Linked DNA regions of Homo sapiens. The protein of the gene in region 2 purifies or fractionates together with the protein of the main gene of each other region. This does not show direct contact. Each region holds a gene or a part of one and is shown on either strand. Other genes may lie near its edges.

Region 1 (2,626 bases), on a different chromosome or scaffold from region 2:
TCCAGGGCCCCGTTGGGACAGAGGGCGGAGGCCTTGTGGGTGGCCTCAGCGAGCAGGAGGGCGGGTGGCGGAGGCATCATGGACAGGTGGGCCAGGGGGTCGGGCTTCAGGGACAGCGACAGAGGCTGGGTCTGCTCAGTCTGTGACTTGGCGTCTCGGGGAGGGGAGCCTAGCAGGTTCGGGGAGGGGGGAGGCGAATCTAGTAAGCTTCCATCTGAAGAGGGTGGGCTGAGGCAGCTGCCTTCACCTTGTATGTAGCGAACGCACTTTTTTTTTCTCCTAGAAACAGGGGAGAGAGTTATCTGTGAATAGAGGGCACAGATGCCAAGGGAGAGAGTTACCTAATGCTCACACCCAAGCTGAGGTCACCTAAGGGATGTCCCACAGAGGTGGCACGCCCAGTGGTCCGAGGACAATTACAGTGGCGCCCCCCCAGGGTGGGTCGCTTACTTCACAGTGCCCAGATCTAAGCCTGCTCTGGCAAACAACTTATTTAAGAGTCTGAACTCTCTACTTGCTTCCCCCAACCCCTACTAAACACCCATGCCCCACCATGCCCAAATTATATACGAGAGCAGCATGGAGGCGGCCACCTGCAGATGGTGGCATCTATTTGCCAAAAAGTGGCTTTGTCCAAATTGAGAAGAACTGAAAAGCTCTTTTGGCTTAGACAGTCCCTCACTTTCCCATCAAGTTTCCTCGGCCCTTCACTCCCATTCCCACCACTACCACCCCCATCCCCCAGTGATGTGTGTGTGTGAGTGTGTGAGTGTGAGTGTGTGTGTGTTTAAAAGAGAAAGACAGAGCTCCTTCCCCAGCCGCCTCGTATCAATATGAAACTCTCAAAATGCTCACTGTTGAGCCCACATAGCTGAAGGCAGCGCTAGCAAGAGGCTTAAAGGTTTTAACACACCACCACCATGAGGCTGCTGGCGCCCAGAGAGCTTTCGGGCTTGTCTGTTAAGAACCACACCAAATCAAGAGAGGTCAGAATCAGGTGAGAAGGGAGGAAGGGAAACAAAAATAAAACAAAATAAACTTAAAACAAAAACAAAAAACAAAAAACGAAACAAAAAAAAGAAACCACCAAAAACAGGTAGAAGAGGATAAACAAAGGTGGGGGAGGGGGAAGAATAAGAAAAACAGAAAATGATTCAAAGGAACGAGAATAACTGGTTGTATGGCCTGCAGGTTGTGGATTAAATTAAGATTCAAACTTGATTTTTTTTTTTTTTTTAAGATTTGGGGCTTTCCCCTCCCCCACCCCGTAGTGAGAAGGTTGGAAGGAGAGATGGTGAGGATGGGATGGATGGAGGGGCATCCTGCTCTTGTCAATATGCCAAGGCTAGTCAATGGAGGGTGCAGCACAAGCCGGTCACCGAAGTGACTACAAAGAAGAAGTGCCAGGGAATCGCAGCATGGACCTTCCTGGGTTTGGGTTATCGTGATTCGTGTTTAAACCAGAAAGACTAATTTTGCCCTGCACCAAAACCAGCATCTCCCCTCTTCACTACTCATTCATGTAAGAAATAGGAATGAGAATTTCAGAGCCCTTCTTGCTTAGCATCAAAGGATGAGGTCGGGGAAAATCAACTCAAGAAATTGAGCATGTGACTTCAAAGCTTCTCCTCCCATTAATCCCAGTCTGATGGGATGGTATTTGGTAAGGAAAGGTGAGCCTGGGGATCAACCCCACTAATGCTATAAAAATAATGCAGATACAGGAAGTGTGCTCATCTAAGGACCCTAGAATATTGTCAGAACCATGGCTGATAACACTCCAACTGGAAACACGTGTGTAAGCACTGGCCAGCTTTCTGCCGCTGGAAGCAACCAAGATGCTGCCTGCTTGAAGGCAACCACTGTCAGACAATGTCACTGGCCTTGGAAAGGAAGGGTGTGCTGAGTTCCTCCTCTCAGTCTGTGCCCCAGAGCTGTCTGATCATGCCCCTCTGTGCTTGGGGTTTGGACTCAGCAAGATGGCAGGAAGGCAGGGAAGGAGGGGAGGGGTGTAAGGGAGCATGCTCAGTCCTCCCTGCCTCCCAGAGGCTGAGATTCATGGGGGCTAGTGGCCTCAGGGTCTGTCTGTTCCTTCTGGGTCAGAAGGAACTCTAGGGGAGCAAGCACCACCCCCTCTCACCCTCAATTTGGCAAGGTTCCTTTTTCTCCCTGGGAGAGAGTAAATAGACTATGGGTTCTGCTTCCATCCCAGAAACCAAGATAAATAATTAAGCCTCTCAGAGTTTTAAACCACCTTAGCCTGCAGATCAAAACATGCTCAAAAAACTAAGATGTCCATGCATTTTAAAAATGGGAGAAGGAAAGGAGGTGGGGAGGGGGAGGGCATAAGCAAAACTGAGAAAGCAACAGAGAAAAACAGAGAGAGGAAAGGAAAGGGAGAAAGAAAGAAGCAGGGAGAACAACCAGGAAGACAAGGGAACAGCACCAAGCAGCATTCCATGCTATATTAGGGCAGAGTGAAAAGATGGGAAAAGCAACTTGGTGGGCTCAAAACAGAATCTTGTTAAAATGTCCACAAATGTCAAATGAAACTAGAAACCTTGTGTGGCAAGCTAGAAGCCCTGATTGGCTAGGAGCATTCTGGTACCTTCCTCACCCCTCCCAC
Region 2 (3,448 bases):
ATAATCAACCTCAGCTAACATCCTTTGATTGAAAAAAGCTTCTGTGTCATATAAGGGAAAATATGCTAATGAACACTAAGGTTTTTTTAGGGATTCAAAGAAAAAGAACTAGCTTCCTAAAACAATGCTTCTAACTAAATATCTGCAAATATGAAGACATACCCTTCAACACAAACATCTTCAGCCCTCAAGCTGAACAGATGCTGACATTAGTATTAGCCTCCTGCAAAGAGTCAACATCTTCAATCAGAACCTGGGTCTTCCAACATAGATGAAGGTCTTGATGTCCTGTCAAGATTCAAGTTAGCCTGAGGTCTCACTGTTTATCTATGATGCCACACATCTAGTCACCTCTACACATCACATTAGGCACCATACAGCAATCATCATTGTCATAACCATCGTAATACTTGGGTTATCAAGAGAGAAGAACCAGAATTGTGGTTGGTGTTAACACATTCTTTCAGGTCATTAGACAAAAGTAATCTGAGTATTGAAACAAGAAACTGTAACATTATAGGTGATATATACGATGTAGATAGGCCTGCAATGGTTGGGTCTGTACTGAACACATATAGATTTTTTTTCTTATGATTCCCTAAACAATACAACTATGTACACAGCTTTTACAATGCATGAGATATTTTAATTAATCTAGACATTTATAGAGTATACAGGAGAATGTGGGTAGGTACATGCGAATATTCCATTTTATAAAAGAGCTGGCATCTGTGGATTTAGGTATACTCAGGGTGTACTGGAACCAATCTTCTTGCATATAGCAGGCAGCAACTCTATTTGAAAGAAATGGAAACTTTTTTTTTTTTTTTTGAGATGGAGTCTCGCTCTAGCACCCAAGCTGGAGTGCAGTAGTGCAATCTCGGCTCACTGCAACCTCCACCTCCCGGGTTCAAGGGATTCTCCTGCCTCAGCCTCCTGAGTAGCTAGGACTACAGGTGTGAGCAACTATGCCTGGCTATTTTTTTTTTTTTCCGTATTTTTAGTAGAGACAGGGTTTCCCATGTTAGCCAGGCTGGTCTCGATCTCCTGGCCTCGTGATCTGCCCTCCTCGGCCTCTCAAAGTGCTGGGATTACAGGTGTGAGCCGCTGCGCCCAGCCTGGAAACTTCTTAAGGCTTTACCACGTTTACATTCACAGGATTTATTTCTTTCAAGTATCTGAATGTGATAAAACCAATGAATGCTTTCCCACATTCCATACACTTATAGAATATCCTTCCAGTGTGTCCTTTTATGTCTATTAAAGGAACTGAGAGAACTGAAGGCTTTCCCACATTCCTTACATTCATAGGGCTTCTCTCCAGTGTGAGTTCTTTCATGTTCTCGACAGAAACTGGAACGACTGAAGGCTTTACCACAGTGTTTACATTCATAGGGTCTTTCTCCAGTGTGAGTCCTTTCATGTCTTAGAAGGAAAGAGGGCCAAAAGAATGCTTTCCTGCATTGCTTACATTCATATGGCTTCTCTGCCGTGTGAGTCCTTTCATGAGTTTTTAAGTAACTGAAACGACTGAAGGCTTTGCCACAAATTTGACACTCATAAGATTTTTCTTCACTGTGAGTCCTTTCATGGCGACAAAAGTATTTAAAAGAACTAAATGCTTTCCCACACTCCTTACATTCATAAGGCTCCTCTTCACTGTGTGTTGTTTCATGACTTTGAAAGGAAAATAAATCACTAAAAGCTTTTCCACATTTACATTTATAGGGTTGCTCTCCAGTGTGTGTTGTTTCATGTTTTCGAAGGGAACTGGAAGTACGGAAGGCTTTCCCACATTGCTTGCATTCATAGGGTTTCTCTCCAGTGTGAGTCCTTTCATGTCTTTGAAATACACTAGGAGAATCAAAGGCTTTCCCACATACTGTGCATTTATGAGGGCCATCTCCAGTGTGTGCCATCATGTGTCTTCGAAAGCTTGAGCGATGAGATAACAATTTCCCACATTGCTTACATTCATAGGGTTTCTCTAGAGTGTGAGTTCCTTCATGAATTCGTGCTGAACCAGGAAAATCAAAGCCTTTCCCACATATCTTACATTTATGAGGTCCATCTCCACTGTGCATTATCATGTGTCTTTGAAAGCTTCCAAGATGACAAAACGCTTTCCCACACTGTTTACATGTATAGGGTTTCTCTCCAGTGTGAATTCTTTCATGTACTCGAAGGGAACCGGAAACACTGAAGGCTTTCCCACATTGTTTACATTTGTAGGGTTTCTCTCCAGTGTGAGTTCTTTCATGTCTTAGATATGAACTGTAATCAGGGAAGGCTTTAGAACACTGCTTACATTCATACGGTTTCTCCCCAGTGTGTATTTTTTCATGTCTTAGATAGGAACTGTAAACAGGGAAGGCTTTAGAACACTGCTTACATTCATATGGTTTCTCTCCAGTGTGAGTTCTTTCATGCATACGTAATAAACTGGGCCAAAAAAAGGCTTTCCCACACAATTCACATTTATAAGGTCCATCTCCACCTTTTACTACCATATGTCTTCGAAGGTTTCCAGGAGAACTGAAGGTTTTTCCACATTCCTTACAATCATAGGGTTTCTTTCCAGTGTGAGGCCTTTCACATGTTTGAAAGGAGTGGCGATAACTTAAGCCTTTCCCACACTGCTTATGTGTATATGACTTCTCTGCATATTCATGACACTCCCGGTGTTTGTGTCCAGTATCAACTCTGATGTAGCAATTCAGGGATGAATGACCCATTATGACTTCTCCATTCACACTGCTTCCACATGCATCTACTCTGGCGGGAGTGTTCTTGTTTACAATACTATTTCGAATCTGGCTTAAGGTTTCTCCACACTGACTACCATCTTTACTTTTACCAAATCTCTCTACCACATCACACCTGTAAAAAATGAAAAGTACATTACTAAAGGTTTATTATTGAATTTATATTTATCAACAGGTATTAGATTTACATTTTTAACATTATCAGGCAAGCTATAAGCTTCATGTCCTGCTTCAATGTGAATGGACTGAATGTTGTGCAAGATAACTCAATCCCAGCTATTTTCAAGACAATGATATGCACATGGGGATTCTTAATTCTTTTTTTTTTTTTTTTTTTTTTTTGAGATGGAGTCTCCCTCTGTCATCAGGCTGGAGTGCAGCTGGTGCTGTCTCGGCTTGCTGCAACCTCCGCCTCCCAGGTTCAAGTGATTCTCCTGCCTCAGCCTCCCAAGTAGCTGGGACTACAGGCATGCACCACCACACCCAGCTAATTTTTGTGTATTTTTAGTAGAGATGGGGTTTCACCATGTTGGCCAGGTTGGTCTCGATCTCCTGACCTCGTGGATCCACCCACCTCGGCCTCCCAAAGTGCTGGGATTACAGGCATAAGCCACTGCGCCTGGCCTTTTTTTTTTTTTTAAGACAGGGTCTTGCTCTGTCACTTAGGTTAGAGTGCACCAGTG
Region 3 (3,660 bases), on a different chromosome or scaffold from region 2:
TGAATATTAATTTTATGGTCTCTTTATACTTTTCTCCTTTGTTTATATATGTGTGTTTGATTATATTGGCAGTCTTTTAAAAAGAACTCAAATGTAAGTCAGTTTTAAAATTTTAGACCAAGGACGATTTATGTTGGTTTCATAATACTTTTAGTTACTTTTAAAAGTGACTAAGAGAAAATGAGTACTTTTAAATGTAGAATTAAACAGATACGTAATTAATTCCTACACACATAACTGTTCCATTCTTTCTCAATTCGTTGGATGTAGAAGTTAGAATAAGAGAATATTTGTACATGTGAATGTAACAAAGAAAACCCCCTTCTCTTTAAATTGGAGGTTAATAATCAACTGTAAATATAATATTTGGTCATCTGCCCTTCATTTTGATGCCTCACAAAACCTCAAGATCATTTTACATAGGTTTCATAAGGAGTAATATTGTAAAGGGTCTGTGATAAAAACAATCGCCATGGTATTTATATTTTAATTTTTAATTTTTATTTATTTTTTTTAAGACAGTCTCGCTGTGTCACCCAGGCTGGAGTGTGGTGGCTCAATCTTGGCTCACCGCAACCTCCGCCTCCCAGGTTCTCGTGCCTCAGCCTCCCGAGTAGCTGGGACTACAGGCGCCCGCCACCATGCCTGGCTAATTTTTGTATTTTTAGTGGAGATGGGGTTTCACCATGTTGGCCAGGCTGGTATCAAACTCCTGACCTCAGGTGATCCACCCGCCTCAGCTTCCCAAAGTGTTGGGATTACAGGCATGAGCCACCTTGCTGGGCCAGTATTTACTTTTTATAAAAGACTGATTTCTGAGTAGCACTTGTCAAAGTTTAGTGTTAATTTAACCATGTGAACATACCCTATTGTAGCAGATGCAAATAATGTCTCTTCTGTTCCATAGATAACTGGTTAAGGGAAGTTAATTTATGGTGCCCTACTTTGAAGGTCCTCTGTTACTATGGTAAGAATATGTCATTCTGCTTTTAACTTTGGAAATTAAAAATAAAGTACAGCACAATAAATAGTCATGTGTTTATTGTTTTTAAATTCTAGGTTCTCAAGAAGAACGTAAACAAATTAGATTTAACATTCATAGTAGATATGAAGATTACAATGTAATTGTGACCACGTAAGTATTGAGAAATTTGGGGAGGATGGATATTTATGCAGCCCCCAAATTTAAAAAAGAAATTGTAGTAGTACTATGTAGGAAAGTTTATGCTGTTAACTGTGATACGAAAGTAATAGAATGACTAATGTTGAGGATTCAGGCATTTTTTAGTTTGGTGTGTAATACCCATATAGGAGGTTTTTGTTAGTGAATCACCTCATTAATGGTGACTATAAAAAGGTTTTGCCTAGTTATTGAAAAAAGTCGTCTTGTAATAGTAATTTCTCAGTTAAGCTTAAAGTAAAATTTGAGATATCCCACCAAAATTATTTATATTTTTAACTTACAAATAAGTATCTGTAATAAATACAATGAAATTTCATTTTCTCAATGAAAAATTTGAGTTAGGGCAGAAATAAAAATGAAAAATAATACTAATAATACTACTTGGTAATAATTGATGTAAATATCTTGCACAGAACTTAATGCTCTTGTGTTACATTAGTTGATTTATTTAAAGTTCTATTTTAACTGTAGTTATTATTTCTCTCTACTGGCTTCTTGTGTAGGAGTCTGTCCTTTAAAAATTCATGCGGAATTTTATTTTTTCTTAATAAAACAGGCTCCATATGCAGTCTCAAGCTGCTAGCTATTAACTATTATTTCTTGGATCTAATCTGCTAGTTTAATAAAATATTAAGTTTTAAAGAGAAACATGTTTTAGCTTCACGTTCTTTTTTGTGCTTATTAAAATATAACACTTCATGGAGCAGATTACTTACAAGTTATACCCAAATTGACCTCCTCCTGGGTATGTAGAAGTTGTCCGATTGTAACATTAACATTTTCTTTTTTTTTTTTTTTTTTGAGACGGAGTCTCACTCTGTCCCCCAGGCTAGAGTGCAGTGGCGCGATCTCAGCTTACTGCAACCTCTTGCCTCCCGGGTTCACGCCATTCTCCTGCCTCAGCCTCCTGAATAGCTGGGACTACAGGCGCCCACCACCACACCCGGCTAATTTTTTATATTTTTAGTAGAGACAGGGTTTCACCGTGTTAGCCAGGATGGTCTCGATCTTCTGACCTCGTGATCCGCCCGCCTCGGCCTCCAAAAGTGCTGGGATTACAGGTGTGAGCCACCGCTCCCAGCCTTTTAACATTTTCTTTCAATTATGTATTGCAGCTTTCATAGCTTGGTTACAGTGTACATCAATAATTATTAAATACAAGTACGTCAGTATTTATTTGAGTATCACCCGTGTCTAGTGCTGTGCTTTAAGTACTGGCTGTTAGAAATGTGTAAATAAAAAATGATTTTATAAGACATTAAATTTCACTAGACTCCAAGCTCTTAAAGGTATAACCTTAGAGATGTTTTTTCTTTTGGTGACAGATATAACTGTGCGATCAGCAGTTCTGATGACCGTAGTCTGTTTCGACGGCTGAAACTTAATTACGCAATTTTTGATGAGGGCCATATGCTGAAGAATATGGGCTCCATTCGCTACCAGCACCTTATGACAATTAATGTAAGAGAATGTTTGTAAAGTTTTCCAAATTACTGTAAAATTTAGATTACGTAATTTAATATATGTAGTATTTATTAGCAGAATCTGTATTATGTAGTTTAATATATGTAGTATTCTGTGTTAGCAAGTTTTTTCTGTAAAAGGGAAGATAGTAAATATTTCACACTTTATGGACTAGATGGCCTCTGTCACGTATTCTTTGATTTTGTTTTTTAACAACCCTTTAAAAAATTATTAGGTCATAAGCCATAATTTACCTGTTCTATATGTTAAACTATTTATAAATAATCTTTCATCATCTCATAAAGGTGATACGAGGACACAAGTTACCTACTTATAAAAGAAGACCAATGGTTTTCGTATTCATTGCTGTTGATAATAGCGGACGTCAATTATTTAAATTACTATATCATTTATCACAGAATGTTAAATTATTAATAATGGTTTTAATTTATCTCTCCTCCCTTCACCTTTCACTGGGGAGGATAGACATGAAAGGAGTGGCTCTTTAAGAAAAAGCTAATATAAATTTTACCTTCATTCACAGGCAAATAACCGTTTGCTGCTCACAGGCACACCTGTACAGAACAATCTGTTAGAACTCATGTCGCTGTTGAATTTTGTTATGCCACACATGTTTAGTAGTAGCACCAGTGAAATACGAAGAATGTTTTCCTCTAAGACAGTAAGCATAAATGCATATTTTCTCCCAAATATGTTATTTGTGTTTTATCTGGGCCATTCTTCTGTTAGGTCTCTTTTGTTGTTTTCATAGTGCATATGCTCTATGAAGTAACTTTAAGTAGGTGATAACTCTATATTTGGATTGGTTTGGAAACCAGCCAAAATATAATGGGAAAGAAAATAGCAATTTCCCTAATCAATGGCCAGAAGTCTTGGTTAATATCCTAATTTTCTGAAGGATGACGATTTTAAATTGATGAAGAGCTCAGATATATAGTATGTGCGGAAAGTTTGATCATTACATCATCTGTATCAAAATTGGCTACGTAAAT

The links.
Region 1: the proteins of ZNF44 (region 2) and TCF7L2 purify together in Homo sapiens (affinity purification with mass spectrometry; one large-scale study listed by BioGRID and IntAct). This does not show direct contact.
Region 3: the proteins of ZNF44 (region 2) and SMARCAD1 purify together in Homo sapiens (affinity purification with mass spectrometry; one large-scale study listed by BioGRID and IntAct). This does not show direct contact.

What each region holds. Positions count from the first base shown.
Region 1 is NC_000010.11:113,163,208-113,165,833, reverse strand, and holds part of TCF7L2 (transcription factor 7-like 2), read right to left. Parts: intron 280-2,626; coding exon 1-279. UniProt on the Homo sapiens protein: Participates in the Wnt signaling pathway and modulates MYC expression by binding to its promoter in a sequence-specific manner. Acts as a repressor in the absence of CTNNB1, and as activator in its presence.
Region 2 is NC_000019.10:12,271,184-12,274,631, forward strand, and holds the end of ZNF44 (zinc finger protein 44), read right to left. Parts: intron 2,883-3,448; exon of another isoform or gene 2,881-2,882; coding exon 1,224-2,880; 3' UTR 625-1,223; downstream 1-624. UniProt on the Homo sapiens protein: May be involved in transcriptional regulation.
Region 3 is NC_000004.12:94,273,831-94,277,490, forward strand, and holds part of SMARCAD1 (SWI/SNF-related matrix-associated actin-dependent regulator of chromatin subfamily A containing DEAD/H box 1), read left to right. Parts: intron 1-907; coding exon 908-967; intron 968-1,059; coding exon 1,060-1,135; intron 1,136-2,508; coding exon 2,509-2,644; intron 2,645-3,191; coding exon 3,192-3,329; intron 3,330-3,660. UniProt on the Homo sapiens protein: DNA helicase that possesses intrinsic ATP-dependent nucleosome-remodeling activity and is both required for DNA repair and heterochromatin organization.